Homo sapiens: one gene and its partners. The protein of the gene in region 2 purifies or fractionates together with the protein of the main gene of each other region. This does not show direct contact. Each region holds a gene or a part of one and is shown on either strand. Other genes may lie near its edges.

The links. The genes of interacting proteins can lie anywhere in the genome.
Region 1: the proteins of CORO1C (region 2) and ACTR2 fractionate together in Homo sapiens (co-fractionation; 3 studies listed by BioGRID and IntAct, with this or other methods). This does not show direct contact.
Region 3: the proteins of CORO1C (region 2) and ETF1 fractionate together in Homo sapiens (co-fractionation; 2 studies listed by BioGRID). This does not show direct contact.

What each region holds. Positions count from the first base shown.
Region 1 is NC_000002.12:65,230,572-65,238,434, forward strand, and holds part of ACTR2 (actin-related protein 2), read left to right. Parts: intron 1-7,863. UniProt on the Homo sapiens protein: ATP-binding component of the Arp2/3 complex, a multiprotein complex that mediates actin polymerization upon stimulation by nucleation-promoting factor (NPF).
Region 2 is NC_000012.12:108,644,191-108,652,203, reverse strand, and holds the end of CORO1C (coronin-1C), read left to right. Parts: intron 1-3,183; coding exon 3,184-3,241; intron 3,242-3,353; coding exon 3,354-3,599; intron 3,600-4,681; coding exon 4,682-4,801; 3' UTR 4,802-7,095; downstream 7,096-8,013. UniProt on the Homo sapiens protein: Plays a role in directed cell migration by regulating the activation and subcellular location of RAC1. Increases the presence of activated RAC1 at the leading edge of migrating cells.
Region 3 is NC_000005.10:138,504,991-138,512,495, forward strand, and holds the end of ETF1 (eukaryotic peptide chain release factor subunit 1), read right to left. Parts: intron 6,615-7,505; coding exon 6,485-6,614; intron 6,211-6,484; coding exon 6,055-6,210; intron 5,640-6,054; coding exon 5,575-5,639; intron 3,827-5,574; coding exon 3,679-3,826; intron 3,398-3,678; coding exon 3,315-3,397; 3' UTR 1,105-3,314; downstream 1-1,104. UniProt on the Homo sapiens protein: Component of the eRF1-eRF3-GTP ternary complex, a ternary complex that mediates translation termination in response to the termination codons. The eRF1-eRF3-GTP complex binds to a stop codon in the ribosomal A-site.

The sequences.
Region 1 (7,863 bases), on a different chromosome or scaffold from region 2:
CAGTTAATTTTTTTATTTTTGTAGAGACTGGGTCTCCCTATGTTACCCAGGCTGGTCTTGAACTCCTGGGGTTAAAAGATCTGCCCACTGCGGCCTCCTAAAGTGCTAGGATTACAGGCTTGAGCCACTGCACCCTGCTGTCAGAAGCTAATGTTATGTTACTATTCCATTAGTTAGCTAACATTAGAAGGCTGATTTTAGGCTGGGCGTTGTGGCTCATGCCTGTAATCCCAGCACTTTGGGAGGCCGAGGTAGGAGGTTCACTTGAGGTCAGGAGTTTGAGACCAGCATGGCCATCATGGTGAAACCCCGTGTCTACTAAAAATACAAAAATTAGCCGGGTGTGGTTTCTGATGCCTGAAATCCCAGCTACTTGGGAGGCTGAGGCAGGAGAATTACTTGTACCTGGGAGGCAGAGGTTGCAGTGAGCCAAGATCACGCCACTGCACTCCAGCCTGGGCGACAGAGTGAGACTGTCACAAAAAAAAAAAAAAGCTGATTGTAGTATGTTATTGATTAGTCTTGTGTCTAATCCATGTTTTTAAGATTCTTTTCCTTAAGACAAGTGATCAATTCCTGTCATAAATGAAAAAAGTGAGTGTAATTAATTCAAATAAAATTTATCTGTTCTTATGCTTCTAGTTATTTTAAAATTTTATGCAGATTTTCTATGGACATGATTGGTTTCAAATGAAGAAACAGTGCTGTTAAAATACATGAATCATATAACAGGAATGCTGTAATAGTTCTGAGTATGTAGAGGACTAGGAACCGCTTAGATTGTGTATTCTGTTTCTTACCATTTGTAGACATGAATAATCATCTTGATTTTATTTAGATACCTGAAGTTATAATGATTCCTTTATAATTAAATATTAAAGAAGATATTCAGATGTAATTTTGCAAATTTATGGAAATAGTTGTTATCCTAAGGTGTTTTCATTTGCTCCTTACATGCCTTAGGTTTTAAAATTGTAGGCTGGCTGGGTGTGGTTCCTCATGCCTGTATTTCCAGCATTTTGGGAGGCCGAGGTGAGAGGATTTCTTGAGGCCAAGAGTTTGAGACTAGCCTGGGTTAGTATAACAAGACCCCATATCTAGTAAAAATAAAAATAAAATTACAGGCTTTTTAAAAAGTTACGATTCTTTTAACCTCTCTGGCAGACCCAAATTAAATATTCTAGGACAGGAGTGTCCAGTCTTTTGGCTTCCCTGGGCCACATTGGAAGAGGAATTGTCTTGGGCCACACATGAAATACACTAACAATAGCTGATGAACTAAAAAAATCACCAAAAAAATTTCATAATGTTTTAAGAAAGTTTGTGAATTTGTGTTGGGCCTCATGCAGCCCGTGGGCCATGGGTTGGACAAGTTTGCCTGGAAACAAGTTTGTACTTACGATCACATGACCAATGTTGGTCCCGCTTGATTTTCTATCTCCCAGCTTGACCAGTGTCTCAGTAGGGTTGCCCAGAGGAGGAAAACTCATTTGATCCAATAATTTATGTGGATTTTAACCATTCAAACCTCCTTCTGAAATCAAGCCACTTAAAGTGGCCCAGATAGGTGAAAATCTGGAGGTCTGTGAAACTCTAGGTTTAGGTCCTCTTCACGAGCTAGGCCCAGGCCCCTGGTGTTACGTGTCTTGTTACCAGACTAGGGTGATTTCATCAGCATTGAGTTAGATCACCAACAAAATGAAGGTTTCTCCAGTGCGTGCTATGTTGCTGGCACAGTGCTTAATAAGGTCCAGTCGTACAGAGAAGCTTATAGTGCTAGAATAATTGCATTTGCATTTATGTAATTGACATTTGTAGTTGATTGTGGCCTGCTTTATCGGGCTTATGCTACTTTATATGTTGAATTTAGGAGTGTTTGAAACAGAAACAAACCAAAACCAAATTTGGTTTCATCTTGCAAAATGCTTTGGTATAAGTAGAATAAATATTTTGGTGGCCTAAGATCAGAACAGTCACTGTGCAGTTAACTTACTAAAGAACATCAGTACCATGAGATAAAATTAGTAAGGGGAAAATAAATATTAAATAAGCCCAAATGGGGCTTTATAAATCCCAGGTTATTATTTTTTTGAAGAGAAAAAAAAAATGTACTTTTAGAGCAGATGTAGATAGAATTTTTCATTTTTGCTTGAAAGAACATTATACTGTTCATATTCTTACCATTTGATGACTCAGTGGGAAGTAAGGGAACTAGTTTAAACCACACTGCTGTGAAGAGGAAACTATATATGGTAAAATCTATTTCTTAAACACAGCCTTACTGCACACAATGAAAGAACGAAGTCACCAAGTCTTAAAATGATTGACATGGGGGAGGAATTTCAAGGATTAAGATGATACCAATGATACCAAATGATAGTTTAGAAAGGAATGTTTTCTTTGTATTTTATCACATCATGGTTTAGTTTTTTTTTTTTTTTTAGACAGAGTCTTGCTCCGTTGCCCAGGCCAGAGTGCAGTGGCATGATTTTGGCTTACTGCAGCCTCCATCTCCCGGGTTCAAGCAATTCTCCTGCCTCAGCCTCCCCAGTAGCTGGGATCACAGGTGTGCACCACCACGCCAGGCTAATTTTTGTATTTTTAGTAGAGATGTGGTTTCTCCATGTTCGTCAGGCTGGTCTCCAACTCCTGACGTCAGGTGATCTGCCTGCCTCAGCCTCCCAAAGTGCTGGGATTATAGGCGTGAGCACTGCGCCCAGTCTAGATTTTTTTTAATACTGATTATTATTATTATTTGCAGAAGTAATCAGATTGTCAGTTTTATATTATTGAAAAATTGGGGCCAGGCACAGTGGTTGATGCCTATAATCCCAGCACTTTGGGAGGTAAAGGTGGGAGGATTGCTTGAGGCTGGGAGTTCAAGACCATCCTGAGCAACAGCGAGACCCCTGTCTCCACAAAAAATAATATAATTTAAAAATTATAATTTTTATTTTTTCTTTACTGCTTCTTGCAGAGCAGGACTACCCCATAGGCAGTGTGCCCAGAGTAGCCAGTATAATTTTTTTTTTAATTATTTTATTTTATTATTGTTTTTGAGACAGAGTCTCACTCTGTCTCCCAGGCTGGAGTGTATTCATGTTATCTCGGCTCACTGCAACCTCCGCCTCCCAGGTTCAAGTGATTCTTCTGCCCCAGCCTCTCAAGTAGCTGGGATTACAGGCATGCACCACCACGCCCAGCCAATTTTGTACTTTTAGTAGAGATGGGGTTTCACCATATTGGCCAGGCTGGTTTCGAACTCCTGACCTCAAATGATCCTCCTGCCTTGGCCTCCTAAAGTGCTGGGATTACAGGTGTGAGCCCCCACACTCAGCCTTTTTTTTTCCTGACAGGGTCTCACTCTGTTGCCTAGGTGGGAGTGCAGTGGTACAATCATGGCTCAAGGCTCAACGTAGCCTCAACCTCCCTGGGCTCAGGTGATCCTCCCACCTCAGCCTCCCGAGTTTCTGGGGCTACAGGTGTGTGTCACCACGCCTGGCTAATTTTTGTATTTTTTGTAGAAATGGGGTTTTGCTCTGTAGCTTCAGGCTGGTCTCGAACTCCTGGGCCCAAGCAATCCACCCACTTTGGCTTCCTACAGTGCCAAGATTACAGGTGTGAGCCACCATTCCCAGCCAATTATTTTAGTTCTTGTTATTATAACTGTTAATGTTTTCACTTTTGAAGTAATGTGAAATAGTGCAATTTTTGCTATCTTGATGGATGAATATATACCCTGTATGAAAACTGGTGCTGAGTTCTATGGCAACATCTGCTTCCAATAAACTACTGCTCAAGCAGAATAGTTTTATTAATAAGTGATTGATAATCTTTAATTTGAATGAAAAGTCTTTTTTTTTGTTAGGCAGTAATAGTAGGTTTACAGTTGTTTTTATAGTTTCAGGGATTTCAGTTTTTGTCTTCTAACTTGGGAAATGTTTGTTGCTTAAAATATACTCATAAGAATGTTAAGATACGAACTACCCATCTGAACGATTATAATTGGAAGACTTTGAGTGATGTGATTATTTGCCACTTTGCCATGTTGTATGTCCAGTGTGTGTAGCTCTGAAGGAGAGGGGAGACGTGTCAACCTTAGCAGCCTCTTCCCTGCACTAGGATCAGACCTATGCTCCATCCCAGGCTCCTCCTGCCACCTCCAGCTTCTCTTACGATTTCTCACTTAGTAAACTTATTTATTTGCATTCAGCATGCCAAAAATGAACCTTACAAACTGGTAGGTTCTCTTTTCATTCATTCATTCATTCTATAATTTTTTTGAGATAATTTATACGCATATAAGTGAGCATTTTCATCCGGATAAATGGATACTTTTGACTATATCTGTTTATTACTTGGAGGTAGGCATAATAATTTAATATCAAAATAGTATTTAATTCCCATATTTGAGATATTTGTGTAAATTATGACTGACATTAGGCTGGCGATCATGACAGATGTTATACAGAAATGTGGGAACAATAGGGATAATGATGAGAACAGATTCTCTTCCATATCATTTAAGTTTGTATCAAGTAAACTGGATTTTGACTTAAAAGAGAGTTTGTGATTTGGGAGAGAAGAGTGTGTGAGAGGTGTGTGTGTGTGTGTGTGTGCACGTGGTGTGTGTGTTATGTTTTAGTTTGAAAATACTAAAAAATACTAGATGTTATTCTTTTCCTCTGAGGTAGTTTTTCCTCCATGTCTTAGGTCACATTATTTAAGAAGACACTGAGAAAAAATGAACTACTACTCCTGAATTCTGTTCATTTTAAGGGTGGGAAGTGTATTCCAGTTCATCACTATCAACCACTGCCAAGGGGAAATAGCTGTGAGCAAGTGGGTTATCTATTGCATATGCTATCATATCATGCTAACTTCTGCCTTAAAAAGTAATCCAGGCTGGGTGCCGTGGCTCACGCCTGTAATCCCAGCACTTTGAGAGGCTGAGGCGAGTGGATCACGAGGTCAGGAGATTGAGACCATCTTGACCAACTTGGTGAAACCCCTTCTCTACTAAAAATACAAAAATTAGCCAGGTGCAGTGGCGAGCGCCTGTAATCCCATCTACTCAGGAGGCTGAGGCAGGAGAATTGCTTGAACCCAGGAGGCAGAGGTTGCAATGAGCCGAGATCACGCCACTGCACTCCAGCCTGGATGACCGAGTGAGACTCAGTCTCAATAAAATAAAATAAAATAATCCAAAAGAATTGTATTATACTTTTAGAAATGGATAGCTGTACCTGAAAAATGCCCTTACCTTGGTGGCTCAATATAAACTAAGACTAGGTTTGTGGGCTTGTAAGAAGACATCTGAATAATATGTTTTATGTAGTTTCTATTAATAAAATGTAAACATGAGGTGAAAGGATAGGAATTGAGGTGGCATTGGGAGTGTGAACTTTCCTCATTTCAGACGAATTTTTCATAAAAGCTTTAATCTGATTGTCATGACTGTAACATATTTGAAAAAACTCTGTTTTTAAAAGACTAAGTGGGGCCGGGTGCGGTGGCTTATGCCTGTAAGCCCCAGGCTGGTGGATTACATGAGGTCAGGAGTTAGAGACCAGCCTGGCCAACATGGTGAAACCCCGTCTCTACTAAAAATACAAAAATTAGCTGGGCGTGGTGGCAGGCGCCTGTAGTCCCAGCTACTTGGGAGGCTGAGGCAGAATTGCTGGAACCTAGGAGGCAGAGGTTGCAGTGAGCTGCGATGACGTCACTGCACTCCAGCCTGGGTGACAGAGCGAGACTCCATCTCAAAAAAAAAAAAAAAGACAAGTGAAATTCTGGATGGCAGAATGTCCTAGGCTATTTATAATTAAATGTGGTTCATCAGCGTCATCTCCAACAGGGCTGCTGTAGAGATCTTTGAAAATACCAAATTTTTATGTTTTGGAGAGCTACATAAGATCTTGCTAAGTTTTACCGCATTAAACAAAAGAGTTTCTTGTAGATAGTAGCTTTCTTTTGTTGTTGGTTTTTTGTTTTTTTGGGTTTTGTTTTGTTTTGTTTTGTTTTTTTTGAGACAGGTCTCATTCTGTTGCCCAGGCTGGAGTGCAGTGGCGTGATCTCAGCTCACTGCAACCTCCGCCTCCCAGGTTCAAGTGATTCTCATACCTCAGCCTCCCAAGTAACTGGGATTACAGGCATGCACCACCATACCTGGCTAATTTTTGTTGGTTTTAGTAGAGATGGGTTTCCATCATGTTGGTCAGGCTGATCTCAAACTTCTGGCCTCATGTGATTCAAGTGGTGTGCATAGTAGCCTTCTATCAAGAGGTACATTGCTCTTTTCTGTCTACCTTTGTTTTATTACTGTCATGTATCACATTCAGGTACTATTTTTCATCCTTAATTCTAAGAATGTGTGGTGCCTGGAGCCATAGAAAAACAGACTTTTTCTGAATATTAAATATATTTTAAAACAATCATGGTATCATACTGTTAAGTCAACAGCAAAACTTTTAATATTTATTGATCATTTACTGTGTACCTATTATGTGCCAGACGCTGTTCTAGGCAGTTGGAATTCATCAGTAAACACAGTGTAGCTAACATTAAATAAATGCTTGTTAAAGAGGGTGCAGACTATGATTACATTTCCTTTCTTATATAGCTTCCTCCTCCCACCCTGAAATTTTTAATTGCCCTTTCCTTGCAATGTCTGCTCTTACTAGACTATGTATTATTTATTTTTTGTATGTTTTTTGAGACAGGGTCTCACATGATCACGGCAGCCTTAACCTCCCAGGCTCAAGTGATCCTCCCACCTCAGTCTCTGGAATAGCTGGGACTATAGCACATGCCACAATGCCTGGCCAATTTTTAAATTTTTTGTAATTTTTTCCGGGGGGGAATCTTGCCGTGTTGCCCATACTGGTCTCGAGCTTCTGGGCTCAAGTGATCTACCTGCCTAAGCCTCCCAAAGTGCTGGAATTACAGGTGTGAGCCACTGGGCCCAGCGTAAACAGACTATACAAGAATTTGTAACTGCCGGGCACAGTGGCTCATGTCTGTAATCCCAGCAACTCAGGAGGCTGAGACAGGAGGATCATTGGAGGCCAGGAGTTCCAGACCAGCCCGTGCAACATAGTGAGACCCCATCTCTACAAAAAATTTTAAAACTTACGCTAGGCGTGGTGGCTCACTCCTGTAATCCCAGCACTTTGGGAGGCCGAGGCAGGTGGACCACTTGAGGTCAGGAGTTTGAGGACAACATGGTGAAACCCCGTCTCTACTAAAAATAAAAAGAATTACCTGGGCGTGGTGAGGTACACCTGTAGTCCCAGCTACTCAGAAGGCTGAGGCACGAGAATCACTTGAACCCGTGGGCGGGGGCGGTGGAGGCCAAGCTTGCAATGATCTGAGATGGAGCCACTGCACTCCAGCCTGGGCGACAGAGTGAGACTCTGTCTCAAAAAATAATAATGAAAATAAAAACTTATTCGGGCCTGGTGGCACATACCTGTAGTCCCAGCTACTTGGGAGGCTGAGGTGGGAGCATCACTTGAGCCCAGCAGTTAGAGGCCACAGTGAGCTGCAGTTGTGCCACTGCACTCCAGCCTAGGCAACATACAAGACCCCAACTCTAAATTTTAAATATTTTTTAAATTAAAAAAGTATTAAAAGCTCTTGATTCTCTCAAGTTTTACTGTAGTTAAATCCTGTAGAATATCAGCTTCTTATGTATAAAATGGAAGTCTTATCACAATGATATGTTCTCGGAGCAGTACACAGAGAATGAAATTATGTTACCCGGTATTACTAAATATATTTATCTAAATGTAAAAATGTAAATAGGGCCAGGCGCGGTGGCTCACGCCTGTAATCCCAGCACTTTGGGAGGCTGAGGCGGGC
Region 2 (8,013 bases):
AGCATATACTTCAGATCTCAAAAATATCTGACCATTCTGAGCAAGAAAGTAGTAGAATTGTACACATTGCCATGAGATGGCACTTTCTAAGGATATCACTAAAACTGAGTTTCTTCATTAGAAAAAAATCTCAAAAAAAAAAAAAAAAGAAAAGAAAAAAATCTCACTTTTTTTTTTTTGAGACGGAGTCTGGCTCTGTTGCCCAGGCAGGAGTGCAGTGGTGTGATCTCAGCTCACTGCAACCTCCGCCTCCCTGGTTCAAGCAATTCTCCTGCCTTAGCCTTCCAAGTAGCTGGGATTACAGGCGCCCACCACCACACCCGGCACATCTCACTTTTTATCATCACCTGAATGCCTGGTGATACCAGAGCAATACAGCTACAAGAAATTCTATGAAGCCCAAGTCTTTCTATCCTTGTGTGTACTGTGGAATTAATACCTCATTTCCTGCCCATATAACTGAAGTGCAACAATGAAGCAGCATAGCTGGGGTGTATTGCACACCTACTGAAATAGTGAAACATGCATCTTTAATCTTCAAGCTGAGGCCATGGTCAGCGTTCCCTGGTGGGCAAGTAGGGAGAGCCTGGCTCGGGGATGGAAAAGTGGGTGGTTTTCCTACCCTATGAGTGGAAGAACCAGAGTCAAAACTGTATTTGGGGCCCCACTGGTCCTAAAATAGAGAAACCAAAGGTCCTATAATGGGGCGGTAGGTTAGCTTGATTTAGGAAGTTCAGCTATGATATAATTTCTACCTCTCTGTACTACTTCTGATTTTTAGAAAATTCATATTCTAAATGCTAGCAGGCTTCCTAAGGGACAGGCTTTTTTCTCATGCTAGTCAACAAATATATCCTCTGAGACTCAGTGACCACTGGCCATTTCAAACAACAGAATAATTAGCACTACATCATCACATATAAGGTCGTACCAAACATTTGTGTAACACTGTGTTTATGTGGACTTTTAAAACGCTTGCTGTTCTGGTCTCACAATTAAAGAATTGATACTTACGTCTTCCAAATAAAAGGAAGAGAATTTTTATAAGCCCCTTTTTTATATTAATCTCTACTAAAAATAAAAAATTTGCTATGTGTGGTCGTGGGTGCCTGTAATCCCAGCTAATTGGGAGGCAGAGTCAGGAGAATCACTTGAACCCAGGAGGCGGAGTGAGCCGAGATGGTGCCACTGCACTCCAGCCTGGGCAACACAGCGAGACTCCGTCTCAAACAAACAAAAACAAACAAACCAAAACTCTCTATGTGATTTTTTTTTTTTAGTTGGAATAATGAAGGAAAGCTGTTAAAGATAATTGAAAATTGTGGTTTAAACCAAACTAATCAAAATATGGTTCAAAATAGACTGAATTCAAATTTATGATTACATCCAATATTTTGAAACACATTTGTTGTCATCTAAAAGTTCGACAGACTATAAACACAGTTGTTCAGAATGTCTCCGATTTATGAAGTGTTTCTTGAGCATTTATTGTATGCCAGGACTGTGCTAAATATGCTACTTGCTACCTCTTTCTTTTCATAACAATCATATGTGGTAGGTGTAACTTTTATCCCCATTTTATGGATGAAGAACTTAAGGCTTGGTGAGGTTGTCACACTCTCGTGGGTTTTGGTAGTAGAGCTGGAAGTCAAAGCCAAGTCAGTCTTTTTATTGGCTATACTAACCACAGAATTTTCATTAAATCAGTCTTTAAAAATGTTTTTGGGCCAGGAGTGGTGGTTCACCCTGTAATCCCAACACTTTGGGAGGCCAAGGTGGGAGGATCACTTGAGCCTGGGAGTTCAAGAGCAGTATGGACAATCTAGTGAGACCCTGTCTCTACAAAACATTAAAAAAATTAGCCAGGTGTGGTAGTACGTACCTGTGGTCCCAGTTATTCCAGAGGCTGAGGATTTGGCTTGAGCCCAGGAGGTCAAGACCTCAATGAGCTTGTGCCACTGCACTCCAGCCTGGGCGATGGAGCAAGACCCAGTCCCAAAAAAAAAAAAAAAAAAAAAAAAAAGGTTTTTGGTTTATCTGGGACTCTTTTAGTTTTTGGTTGAAATAGTAAAGAGGCACATTTGACACAACCTTCCTTTTAAAGAGGATGATGATTTTATAAACCTTTACCACCCTGAGCTCTACTCAGCTTTTGTTCCCCTGATGCGTTAGAGCAGTGTATCTGCCAGGTTGTCTTCAATGGACTCCTGCCCAGTTTCAGATGCCAAAGGCTGCAGGTTTCCAGGAGAAATGGTTTTGCATATTTGATGTGGCTGTGTCTTCTCTGACTTAAACTCTTGGAATTCAGAAAACATTTCCCCAGCAGCATTGACGCCCACATTCAACTCCCCCCTTGCACACCAGCCGTTTGATCTGGTGATCTGGCCAGGATGCTCACTAAGGCTACCTCTCTTGCCAGGAGCTTTAGAGACTTTTTTTGTTGTTTCCCGTCTTGACTGAAAAAGAAAATTGGCTTGACCTTATCAGGGTCATCATAAGAGAAGTCATTTCTGGTCTGTTTAGTTCTCTTGTAGGATACAAATAAAAATGTTATACCTTTCTTCCCCATTACAGAGCTCTTTGCTCCCTTCTTCCAGTATTACAGTGCAAGTGGCTTTACATTCTCTTTCCACATTTTGGATAGTTTCACATTTTTCTTGAGTGTCATGTACGATGTGGTTTGCTAGGATGAGAAAATCATAATCCTAGGATTGTTTTCTTTTGCTTTCTAAAAGTCATATTTATACTTATATGTTCAACCACCTCAAGCTGGCAGAAGACCTTGTACCCGCGTTGTAGATACAATCTAACAGATGTGTGTTCTCTCCTGTAGGTTGACATGGTAATTTTTTCATAAGTGAGTCAGTTTCAGTGTTGCTATTATTTCCACCACAGTTGGTCTGTCCCCCAGATAATTGGCATTTGTCATCATCATACGTAGACCTCTACTCATGGTTCTTGTCTCCAGTCTGCCAGTTCCTAGCATAGTGACTCTCAGCTTCCGTTCTCTCATCTGTCAACCGGGAACACTAAATTCTGCCTATTCCCGGGGTGGATCAGATGTGGGGATGGGTAAAGAAGCACTTGACATTTCAGACAGCATTGTAGAAAACTAATTATTCATCCTGTTAGTCAGCCTCATATTTCACTTAATGCAACTTTGCCTTTATTTCCCCTCTGAAGATTCTTCAAACTTCATGAGAGAAAGTGTGAACCTATTATTATGACTGTTCCCAGGAAGGTGAGTGCTGAGTTTTCTAGACAATCCATATTTTAAACAAATGTAAAAATAAAATTCAAAAATCCCAGGCCTTTCTTCTTCCTTACCCACGGGTGCCAAATGTCTCTTGTAGTCTGACCTTTTCCAAGATGACCTGTATCCTGACACAGCGGGGCCAGAGGCCGCGCTGGAGGCAGAAGAGTGGTTCGAAGGCAAGAATGCAGACCCAATCCTCATCTCCTTGAAGCACGGGTACATTCCAGGCAAAAACAGGGATCTCAAGGTGGTCAAGAAGAACATTCTGGATAGCAAGCCCACTGCAAACAAGAAGTGCGACCTGATCAGCATCCCCAAGAAAACCACAGACACGGCCAGTGTGGTGAGGACCAGTGGAGTGCAGGGGTGCTTGGCTGGTTCAGGCTTTATCCTCTAGAAAGCCCTTGTGGTCCAGGGCGTCGGCGAGTACTGTCCCAGCTGGGTGCTCAGGGGTTTTCAGTAAATGAAAAAGTGGGAGAAGGTCCTCGGTCACGTGATGGTGGTGGTTTGTGGCAACACTTGCCTCCTTTAACGGAGTTAAAGCTCCTTTAGCCCCATTAAAGGAGCCAAGTGTGGCCACAGACCACCATGATTGGGATAGGTATCAGTTTCCTCCTATCTCTCAGTGTGAACAGGAGCCTCTTGGGTTTTTCCTGTCTTTTGCCAAACTAGTTAAACCCTTCTCTGATTTGGGTAGAAATAAAATATCATGGGAGTGTGGGGTCATAGGCACCAGGGAGAGGAGGTCCCTGGAAGGAGGGAGTGGCACGTGTTCAGATGTAGCTGAGTGGCTACGACAGAAGGATCTGGCGGTGTGGGGCTGGCAACAAGGGGGATTTAGGCAAGAGCCCTTTGGGTGGGGAATTGGGAATCAAGCCTGCCTTTGACTCGCTGCGGCCACTGGAGAGTGCTGCTGTTGCCGGGAGAGCAGGTCCTGGGTAAGAGAGAAGGAGTGGACACACAGGGCAAGGGTTTCCCTCCCAAGAAGGAGCCTCACAGATGGCAGGAGCTCTGTAGCCTCTGGGAGAGTCACCCCTCTCTCTGGTCAGATAGAAGTTACTCTTGATGGAATGATTGGGGTGGTTAGGACGTAGGACACTGTTGAAGGAGCCTGTTTTGTCCTATAGTCTAACTGTGACCCAGGAGACCCTTTGTTTGAGTAAATGCACAGGCTTCGGGATCAGAAGTGGCACTGTGACACTGTGACACACTGTTGTTTTGCCACGGGATCTCAGATAGATCGGCCAGTGCTCATTGCATTCAAAGCCCCAGACATAGTAGGGCTTTGACTTCTCTTTTCAACTTGGTGACTATGGCTTGCCGTTTGCAAAATAGAAAACTACATTTTATATCTTACAAGTTTTGAACAGTGTTGAACTTTGTTTACTGCATTTTAATCACTGCCTCCTTTTTTTGTTTTCTTAGCAAAATGAAGCCAAGTTGGATGAGATTTTAAAAGAGATCAAATCTATAAAAGACACAATCTGCAATCAAGATGAGCGTATTTCCAAGTTAGAACAGCAGATGGCAAAGATAGCAGCCTGAAGGTCCCACCCCCACCCCTACAGAAAAAATGGGAGCAAGAACTTGTGCTTGGGAGCTGGTTATTGGTGTGGTCCTAGGGAGGGCGGAAAGGGAGGCACTGCCATTTGGAGACATTCCATTTCAGATTTGTCAACCAGCGATAGGCCACATTCCAGTAAGAACTCAATTTGTCTCCCAAATTTGCAGAAACAAAACGTGATTTAAAAGCTGAGCTTTTTATCAGAAAGCTTTTTTGATGTTTTAAGTGTTATGTGACTTGTTGAACTTTTTAAAAAGTGCTACTTTTAAAATCCCAGATACTCTGAATTTTAGAAAACAAACTAATTCTGATTGTGTCGTGCCCAAGTACCCTTTTTTTTTTAATGAATAGGGACCAATGCCACATTGCTTTTTATATTTCTTTCTTTTTTAATGTTGCCAAAACCAAAAGTAGCTTTGTTTTCCTTTGTATTTTGCTACTTTGCAGTATTTGTGTGTGTGGTTTTTTTTCCTTAATTTGAAAGGGACAGCACTGTGTATGTTTATAAACTAAATGAAGATAAGATATTATTTTGTATAAACATTCATCTGAGAACAATCAAAGCAGTAGCCACATGGTGCTGGCTCCTTTGCAGCACAAACCTGGTCATTTTGATGACTGTACAACAGGAAGACTTGAAAAATCACGTGGATTCATATTACCACCGCTCTCATTTCATGGAGTCTTCTGATCAAAAAAGCTCACGTCGTATTTCTTCTTTTCCTTTCTCTTTTCTAGAAATTGGGTGTTTGTACCAGAATGGAATTTTGCTTCTCGGTTATCCTGTGCTTCAGATGATTATAATCTAACCCAAACTAGCATGTGTTTCTGCAGTTTGTTACACACCTAGGATCATATTGCATTCATCACTTTAAACATCATGTTTCAGGTTTTGGTCAATACTTGACAAGGGTGCCCAGGACAGGAAGACGTGTACTGCTGAGTGTTCCTTCTTGCCCTTTTCAGCAGCTTGCCCAGCTCTTGAGTACAGTGGTGGGGACTAAAAATGTGGGCATGTGGAGAGGGGTATTTGCCCTGGGTGATCCTGTTTCCCTGTGCTGTCCCCATGCTGTGTTGGAGGAGGAAGTGGCTCTCCTTCCACCAACAAAGCTCCTGCTCTACCCTCTTCCTCACATGTGCTGCGACCTCTCTCAGGGCTCCCCCAGCCATTCCTTCTTTCCTTCCTGCCTTTTAGCTCTAACCACATTAAGCTAAGACAAGGCCAGAGGGTGCGATTGAATGAGTATTGAGACTGAGGAGAATGATAGAGAGTGAAGCAGAAACAGGAGCACAGACCTCTGCTGTAGCTTTAATGCATACAAACATGTCCCTCCGCACAACTAACCTGCCCTGCCTCTCCATCTCTCACCAAGGCTGCGTCAAAGCACAGAGGCTCCCCGGACTCGGAGGGGGCCAGAGACTGAGCTCTGGTCACCTGTTCATTCCTCGGTTAGCTGGAACTTTGCCCCGTTTCCAGTTTCTTATAGTGCATGCTTGGGAAACAAGATTTAAGGAGCCTCTGTTTTGGAAGGGCTGTCTGTGATTGAACGTGAAATGTGTAGTGCCATTGGGACCACGAAGGGAATTCTTGCACATGCTCGTGCTGGTGTGGGCATGGGACTGGCTGGAAACGTCTGTATGCAGGGAGCCAGGGTGAGGGCAGAGTGTGGTGACAGCCGAACTTGGAGTAATGTCCGTGTAGAAAAAGGACCATGTTCTTATCCAGCCAATACTGGGAGTGCTGTCTCCACAATTTCAGGGCATCTGAATGTTTGATGTGGTTTTGTGTGTGTGTATGTATGTGTTTAATATTGAAGTGGATCATGAGATGTAAAGAAAACAATAATGGCAATGACTTATATTCAAATCTGTATTTGTTTCTTTATCAATGTAATCTGCTGAGGACCTTTTGTCTAAGATTCAGTAGTGTTTTAAGGTTCTGATATCGAATTAATGAAGTAAAGTTGTTGATGGTGGTGAAACACCGTAGGGCATGTGGTTCAAAGAGAAGCAGGAGGGCAAGGGAAAGTTACCCTGATCTTAGTTTGTAGCTTATGACTTATTTAATGAATGGATGCCCAGCCAAGCTCAGAGTAGGCGCCCAAAGCATTGTGGATTATTTTCCTGTTTTGTCTTTTTTTTTTTTTTTTTTTAAGCCATGACATCCCAGAAGAGGACAGTGAATTACTCCTAGGTCGGCTCTTATAGAGTGGCCATAGTGTTCTGTCAAAACACTTGCTTCCATTTTCAGAGATAAAAATCATTGATTACAAAATGGTGTTTGTGTTTATTTCACGCCTTGGCTGTCTGTGAGGCAGCCCCCACCTCTCTGCCTGACATAGCTTCTCTGACTTTGGTGGACGAGCACGGTGCCATACTCCTCTCCGGGGGTAAGTACAGGGGAAGCGCGTGTGGGTGGCTCAGTTCAAGTACAAGTGAGGTCTCCAAGCCAGTCAAGCACTGTGTTTTGGCTTCCAGCAGACCTGAGCCTTTGGATCCTGCCTCAGACCTTTGCCAGCGGTGTGTCCTGGGATGGGGTTCCTAATCCTTCTGAGTCCCTTTTCTTGAAAGGAGGATGATAATTCCATGTAGTTCAGATGAGAGGAATACCTGTGTGGCCACACAAACAACCCTCGCTGCATGGCCGCTACTGTTACTATTATGAGTTGATTTTCTGACAGAGTCTTTGAAAGCACTTTTTCTTCAATAGAAGCAAAATTCTCTTGGCTCAGCTGTGACTTTTATTCCAGCAGGCTTCCAGGGTCAGTTGAATTGCAGGGCTTCCCTTTCGCACTATGACATTGTCTCGTGACATTTCAGTGATTGTAGCAAAGAATTTCCCACTGTTTGCTTTTTCTGAATATGATGAATGGTCAGCATAAAGCTCCCCTTCCTCAAATGCCTTATCTTAAAGTTGCTTTAGTCTATGAGAAGAATGGCTGCCATGTTCTTGGTCCACTCGTGGCTGCAGGAAGTAGAAGTTGGCAGGGCTCTCTGTAGACCCGAGGTGCCCGCAGTCAGCCAGGAGACGCGTGGTGGTCTGTTTATGACTAACTTGTTTTCTCACTCGGGCCACCTTGATTCTTTGCCAGAAGACCTGAAGGTCAGCATGCTGGCCCCAGACAGCCAGCCAGACCTCGTCTGGGGGGAACTTCCATTTTTTTTTTCAAGGTCACTTCCCTTGCTGTACTTG
Region 3 (7,505 bases), on a different chromosome or scaffold from region 2:
TCCACCTTGGCTCTCAGCCCTAAATCCACCGTGCCTGTCTGGGAGTGTCATGGCATGCGTCTTGGAGCCAGAGAACAAAAGATGGCAAGTGCTGCAGGCCCAGACAGGCAAGGACCACAGCCCATATATCCTGCACCACTGTGCTGCCTTCCAACAATTTTGTCTTCAAGAACAGCACCTAGACACGCATTAGGAGGGAAAATTACACTTCCACCAGCACAGGCATGTTCGCCCCTTCCCAGCTGGTAATTGAGTTTCGTCGTCAGAGCTATCACCTAGATCAGGTAAGAAAATGGGTGAAAAGTACGCCAAGTGCCATTACTGGTCAATTTTACTTAAAACAGTTTTCTCAAACCTGGAGAAAGCAAACCATGCACCACCTTGGCTCCTCAACTAGGCTTCCTAAACTACCAAAGAGGCTCTTTAAGCACCTCAACCTTGGGGGAAAACAAAGAAAACAAATCCTCTTCTGCTCTGAACCTGGCCTAGGAGCCCTGCTCCTCTGGACCAGCCCCTGACCTGCTTTTGGGTGGGCTACTACTCTCCTACCCAGTGTAAGGTATGTAAGATGAAGGAGCGTGGGAGAGAGAGAGGGCCCAGGCCTAGTTTCTGCTATTCCATCTGGACCATTCTATTATAGGACTCAAAGACAGATACAGAGAGAACTTTGGAATAAGGCCTGGGATAAAATTTTGGTGTTATCACTAAAGAGCTGCTACTTAACCTTCTTTTGTTCTGTTTCATCACCTGTAAAATTGGGTACACCATCTACCTCCATGGGATGCTGGGTTATGGGATAATATACTTAACATACCTTAAAAAAAAAAAAAAGCAAGATTCCCTTTGGCATGCATATAGAATGGGGGAGAATACAAATTAGTTTGGCCCCAGCAACCTGAACCTTCTTCTTCTAGCATAACTCTGGGATCATGACCTCAGAAAAACTTTGCATATACCTTTCCATAGACAAATGTAGTAAACACAACTCAAACCCAAGGCTGAAATGCTATTGGCCGTGACTAATCTGAGGTATGCCTTGGAGAACTGTCTCCACAGTTCAGGCCTTTCTAGACCAGTCCTAAAAAATCTCAAGCACACAAAGTATATTCTTAAATATGGTTTAATACTCTTCTCCATTTCTGTACATCACAACACCAAGATTTTGCTGCTTAGTATCTCTCTGCAGAGGCTATAGAGAATGCAAAGGCTACGGTTTTCACCCCCTCTTATATGTGTTTGTATGTGTAAGTGTAATACATATCAATATATATTGATACACACATCAATATATAATGCAATATATATCACCGAAGAGAACACATTGATTAAAGAAATACAAAAATTTGGCATCATTTCCAAACTTAAATAGTAAAAATAAAAACTACAAAAGGAGCTGCATACCCTAAATGTATCATGTGAAACAACAAGCATATTCAAAAATGTAAATTTACATCCAATTTCTCTGGTCTTGTCATATCACATCAGACCCATTTACAATGGCAAAACCCTAAGGTACTGCTGTGAAGAGAGCATGTTTGCTCGCTCTTGGGTGTTCTGCAAACAAATAGCAGAGCCCAAAGCAAAAAAGCCTGTTCCGGTGAAGTCTCCCACGTTGGTGAACACCAAATAATGGACTCTTCTCACAGGGGGTTGAGACATCAGGTTACACATTGACAGACAGTATTTGGACCTCAGAGTACAGTGTGAGAACCAGAAACTTTACATTTAAGACATACTCCCTTCATTCAAGTGAAACAGGATTATTGGAACGATAGGCAGGTCTGTAACCTGGGAACAAGGAGCTGGTTCAGACCAATAAAGCTACGAGTGACTGAATCAAGTCAGTAAAGAACAGCAGTCAGGCACTAAAGTGTTAAAAGTACCCAATTTGAAAACCAAATGCACCCCACTACCCTAGTCAGTGTGGAGGTGATACCAATTGACTTTTAAAACCTTTGGTCCTTCAAAGTCCATTTGGTATACTTTTTTCCATCGCTACCACTGGGCACGTACTATACACTTTGTTCAACTGTCACCACCCTGGGCACGCCATGACCTTGCATATCAGCTGGGTTCAAGTCTGACTTACAGCCCAGCTGTGAAGCATAAGCTTCAGGGTTTCAGGCCAACTTTTGGATCCAACATGGTCTTAAATCCATGGTGCCAGAAGCTGTGTCCCATCCCTTCCCACCCGCCCCTAATTTCTCATGTGAGAAGTGCTTGTAAGTCCCACATTTGAAACAGATGCTCCAACCCCACCAGGAGGTCAGGAGTTTATAATTACATGCAGTCATACATGTCTGTCGTTCCTGTGAAAAACCTTGCAGTTCATTTTAATAAATCAAAACATTCACATAATCTCATGCCATCCAACACAAGGAAAACACATCCACCTCCCTTTTAACAAGGATTGACCCAAGCAAAATAAAATCCTCTTTAAATTTCTTCGCTTCCACTTAAATTGCATGTTTTATTTCTCCCAATCCCAGCAATAGCACAGAAGCCCCATCATATCCATCCCAAACCGGTTTCGAGTAGGTTAAGGTTATAGGGACCCTTGTCAGAACATTGATACAAAGGGCTCCCAAACGCCGGGCACAAATGTGTCTGCAAACAGATGGAAGTAAACAGTGCACTGGCCCAAATGCTTCATGAGTCAGTTTGATTTTGCAATGCAATTTGCATCCTTGAAACTGCCAGTCTGGAGGGGGACGGGGTAGCGTGAGGGAGTGAAGTTGAAAGTGCCTCCTATTAGCTCACCCTTTCAACATTAAACAGAGACCAAGAGAGAAATGGTTCCAACATTTCACCACATATATTTCTTCTTACGCAGTCTAAGCTGAGAATGCCATGTAAATGGGTCACTGCGAAATGCAGCAATTTAATTTTTCTCCAATCAAAATAAGAAACAAACCAGTATGATCTCACTTCTATTAACTTTTGAAGGTTTACAGCAGTTAAAGTATTTTTGCTTCTATGTATGAAGGTTAAAAAAATCATTTTTTTTCATAAAATACAAGAGCAACCAATTTCACCATCCAGTAAAAGTAAAAACTGGGATTCTTTTTTAAATTAGTCCAAAGTGGCGTTTAGGAACTTAGTTGTAGGCTGCTGCGCTGACACCATGACAAACCAAAGTGTAGGGCTGGGTCTGGTTTTGTTTCGGTTTTCTTTTCAATATCCAATGCTCATGGATTAAGTTCTGGAAATGTTCCAATTGTAAGGCAGGGATCTGTTTGGATTCCACCATGGGTATGCTCCTTGGGTTGGATGCTGGAGGGTGAGGCACGTTTTGCCGGACCCATGTCGACTACCTAGTAGTCATCAAGGTCAAAAAATTCATCGTCTCCTCCTTGGTATTCCATTCCCTGGAAATCTACTCGGTACCGCAAGATACCTGGGGAAACAAACCAAAAGGTAAATTACCTGTGTTCATGGGATGGGCATGTGTGTAGGTGGCTGGTAAGGGAATAAGGGAAGCCCTATTCTCTTGCAGAATTGCAGAAAGCAAAGAGGTAATAATAAACATGGGTCCAAATTAGGAACCTGCACCTGCTGCGTCAATCACCTATCCCAGCAGATAATAAGCACCTCACCGGAAGCAGGGCTAGGGCTAGCCAGGAGGGACCTTGACCTGAGACCCTGGTTTTAAGTTTGGTTTGCTGATTTGCTACTCACCTCCAATTCCACCAAATCCTTTCACAAACTGAGACCCTTCTTGTGATTTATCTGTGACAATTTCCAACGTAGCTCCAAATTTTTTATAGTTGTTAGCAAACCATTCCAACAGGGGCATGCTCTCGATAAGCTCATGTTCCTGTCCGGTCTACAGGGATGACCATGAGATACAAAAATGGGGGATTAGGATATATGAAGGCTAATTAGTCCCTCTCACAGCCCCTTGCCCACCTATCACTCTCATCCTCCCATTTATAGGCATGTCTGTGTGTAAAGCTCTGTAAGTCATCTCTGGTTTTGATAACCTAATGGATATCAGCAGAGAAATTCGGATTATTTCAAACAACACTTCTCCTCAGGCTCTACCCTCAGCTATGAAATACCAACACAAAAACTCAGTGGGTATTCAGCTTATGATTCCTACTGTTGACTCTAGAAGTCAGGCTGTTGTAGTGTCTCTAAGCAGCACCCATTCAATGGCTCAGAAGAGACATTCCAGGACTGCTTTTGGGAGTGGCCTCGTAGAGAACAAAGCTCTCCAAACCAGAATTTGAGGAAGCTATCATTTAAACCTATCTCATACGGGAGGGTCATACTTTCAACTGTTGTGATGCACTTAGAGCAAACCAGAGAAGCCACTGCAGTGGAAGAGCTGATCAAGTGAAGAAAGCAGCACAGGTTTCACAGTGCAGGAGAGGCATTATGTAAATTACATTTTCCTCCCTATTAAATTTCAAGGATAATGAAATGTTTTCCTGATTGCTTAACTACTTAAAAACAAAGACAAAAACAAACAAACAAACAAAAACCAGGCCAGGCATGGTGGGTCACGTCTGTAATCTCACCACTCTGGAAAACCAATGTAGGAGGATCACTTGGGCCCAGGAGTTCAAGACCAGCCTGGTGAACACAGCAAGACCCCATTTCTATAAAAAAAATTAGGCTGCCTGGCATGGTGGCTCACGCCTGTAATCCCAGCATTTTGGGAGGCTAAGGCAGGTGGATCACCTGAGGTCAGGAGTTCGAGACCAGCCTGGCCAACATGATGAAACCCAGTCTCTACTAAAAATACAAAAATTAGTCAGGCGTGGTGGCGGGCGCCTGTAGTCCCATCTACTCGGGAGGCTGAGGCAGGAGAATTGCTTGAACTCGGGAGGTGGAGGTTGCAGTGAGCCGAGATCACACCACTGCACTCCAGCCTGGGTGACAAGAGCAAACTCCACCTCAAAAAAAAAAAAAAAAAAAAAAGGGAATGAGGGCTTGTGCCTGTACTCCTGGCTACTCAGTAGACTGAGGCAGAAGGATTGCCTGAGCCCAGGGGTTCGAGGTTATAGTGAGCTATGATTGTGCCACTGAATCCAGCCTGGGTGACAGACCAGGACCCTATCTCAAAGAAAAAAAAAAAAAGACCGGTCATGGTGGCTCACACCTGTAATCCCACCACTTGGGAGGCCGAGGTAAGTGGATTGCTTGAGCTCAGGAGTTTGAGACCAGCCCAGGGCAACATGGTGAAAACGCCTCTCTACAAAAAATTCAAAAATTAGTTGGGCGTGGTGGTGTATGCCTGTAGTCCCAGCTACCAGAGAGGCTGAGGCAAGAGGATCACTTGAGCCCAGGAGGTGGAGGTTGCAGCGAGCCGAGATCATGCCACTGCACTCCAGCTTGGGCAACAGAGCAAGACCTTGTCTCAAAAAAAAAAAAAAAAAAAAAAAAAAAAAAAGCTGCAGCTCCTTCCCTGAAATCAGATTCGTATGTGGCAGATAGATGACCACCTCCCACAGCACCCCCAATTAGTATAAGGTTTGGTTTCCCAAAGCTCACCCTCTACACAGCCAGTACTCTAACACACGGATTTACGCTTGCACGTATCATCAAACCAAGAAAATAATCACATACCTCTTTGTCTGTGAAATGAGATTTATCCTTTTCTTGCTCTGGAGTTAGATAGAGAATTTTCTCCTCTGTAGTATTAGGAGGAAAAAATGTGTTAACCTGGCTCTCATATACTAATCTGTGTAAGCTCCATAAGATGAGGTTAGATGAGAAAAGGGCTCAGGGACTCAATCTCTCAACATTTTTTCCATAAACATGTTAGCATACACTGAGTGTCTACTAGGTACAATGCTTCAACCATAAGGAACATCAGAGATGTTCAAGATATAGTCCTGGTCCTCAGCAGATGTAACAATCTTAAGCAGACGTTAAACAGTTCAAGCAGAAAAATCTATGCAGGAATGTGCTACAGACTGAAGGACTGGGGAACAATGGGTAGATCTACCTTCTGATTGCTCCTGAAATCAGCCATCCCTCCCAAATCTCCACCCCAGGCTTCCTGGCTCAGTAACAAATAGCAACCTTATTTTCTAATTCTCATACCTTCTGTGCCTTGGCAATGAAGAACATATCTCATTATATCCAGATTTTCATAGACTATTAGAATTTCTACAGCTCCCATTTCCAAAGCCTTTAGTGTATCTTCAACGCCAAAACAGTACTTGCCCGTGTCCTGGCTGATTTCATCAAAGTATCGTCCTACGATTAGGGATCAGTCAACAGGATATATATTAAAGTTTCCCTAGTAGATACAAACACACCTATTCGACCTAATGACTAAAGAAGATAAAAAATAATGCTTTTACTGAGGCAAAAGAGTTAATAAAAATACTAAATATTCCTTTTTACATTTTTGGTACCTTGTCTCATACATACAATCACGTACATACACACACACACATACACACACACACACACACACACACACACACGAAAACATTTCACAGAATAAGTAGTTGCATTTCACCGATACCTATTAATTTCTTCTCTTGAATGAATTTCACGTTGGAGAGGACTTCAGTAGATAACTCAATAGCTTGGTTGAATCCATTTTCACCACCATAGGATATATCAACTAATTTTAAAACTTTTGATTGTAACCTCTAACACACAAAAAAAATATTATTAGTACTTACTGGTACTTATTTAAAATATTATTAAAACACCTTTACTCAAACCCACTAACTCTTAATGGTATGCAAAGCTCAGCATTATGATCACTGAAGTCTAAATATGGGGAAGGAGCCCAATTTAATCAAAAGCTGCTCTTAAAGTGAACAGCACTGCCAATTATATCACACATTTTATTAGACCTACTATAGGACAACTCATTAAGTGCAAACAAAAATAAGTTATTGTGGAGGAAAGGGGGGACCACTGGCTCCTGCCAAATAAGGTAGTAGAGGTTAAGACGGGCTGGGGAGGGTGGCTCACACCTATAATCCCAGCACTTTGGGAAGCTAGGAGAGGCAGACAGCTTGAGTCCAGGAATTCTGAGACCAGCCTAGGCAACATGGTGAAACCCTGTCTCTACCAAAAAGTACAAAAATTAGTTGGGCATGGTGACACATCCCTGTAGTCCCAGCTACTTGGGAGGCTGAGCTGGGAGGATCACTTAAGCCTGGGAGATCGAGGCTGCAGTGAGCCATGATTGCCACTGCACTCCAGCCTAGGCAAGATAGCCAGACCCAGTCTCAAAAAAAAAAAAAAAAAAAAAAAAAAAAATATATATATATATATATATATATATATATATATTTTTTTTTTTTTTTAAAGGCAATTTCTTTGGTGGACCTTCTACCATAAGGCTACTTCCTCCAGATCTTGAAAGTGTATTATGGCTGAGCCCATGTTATAAAATGTGCTTTAAATGCTTTAGGCTGAATCAGCTGTCATACTGCTGAGAGCTTTGCTGCTATGTATCTCCAAGAATAAATCAGAAAAAGAAAATAAGGAACAGGTTTTAGTTTCTTTGAAATCAAACTCCATTCTAC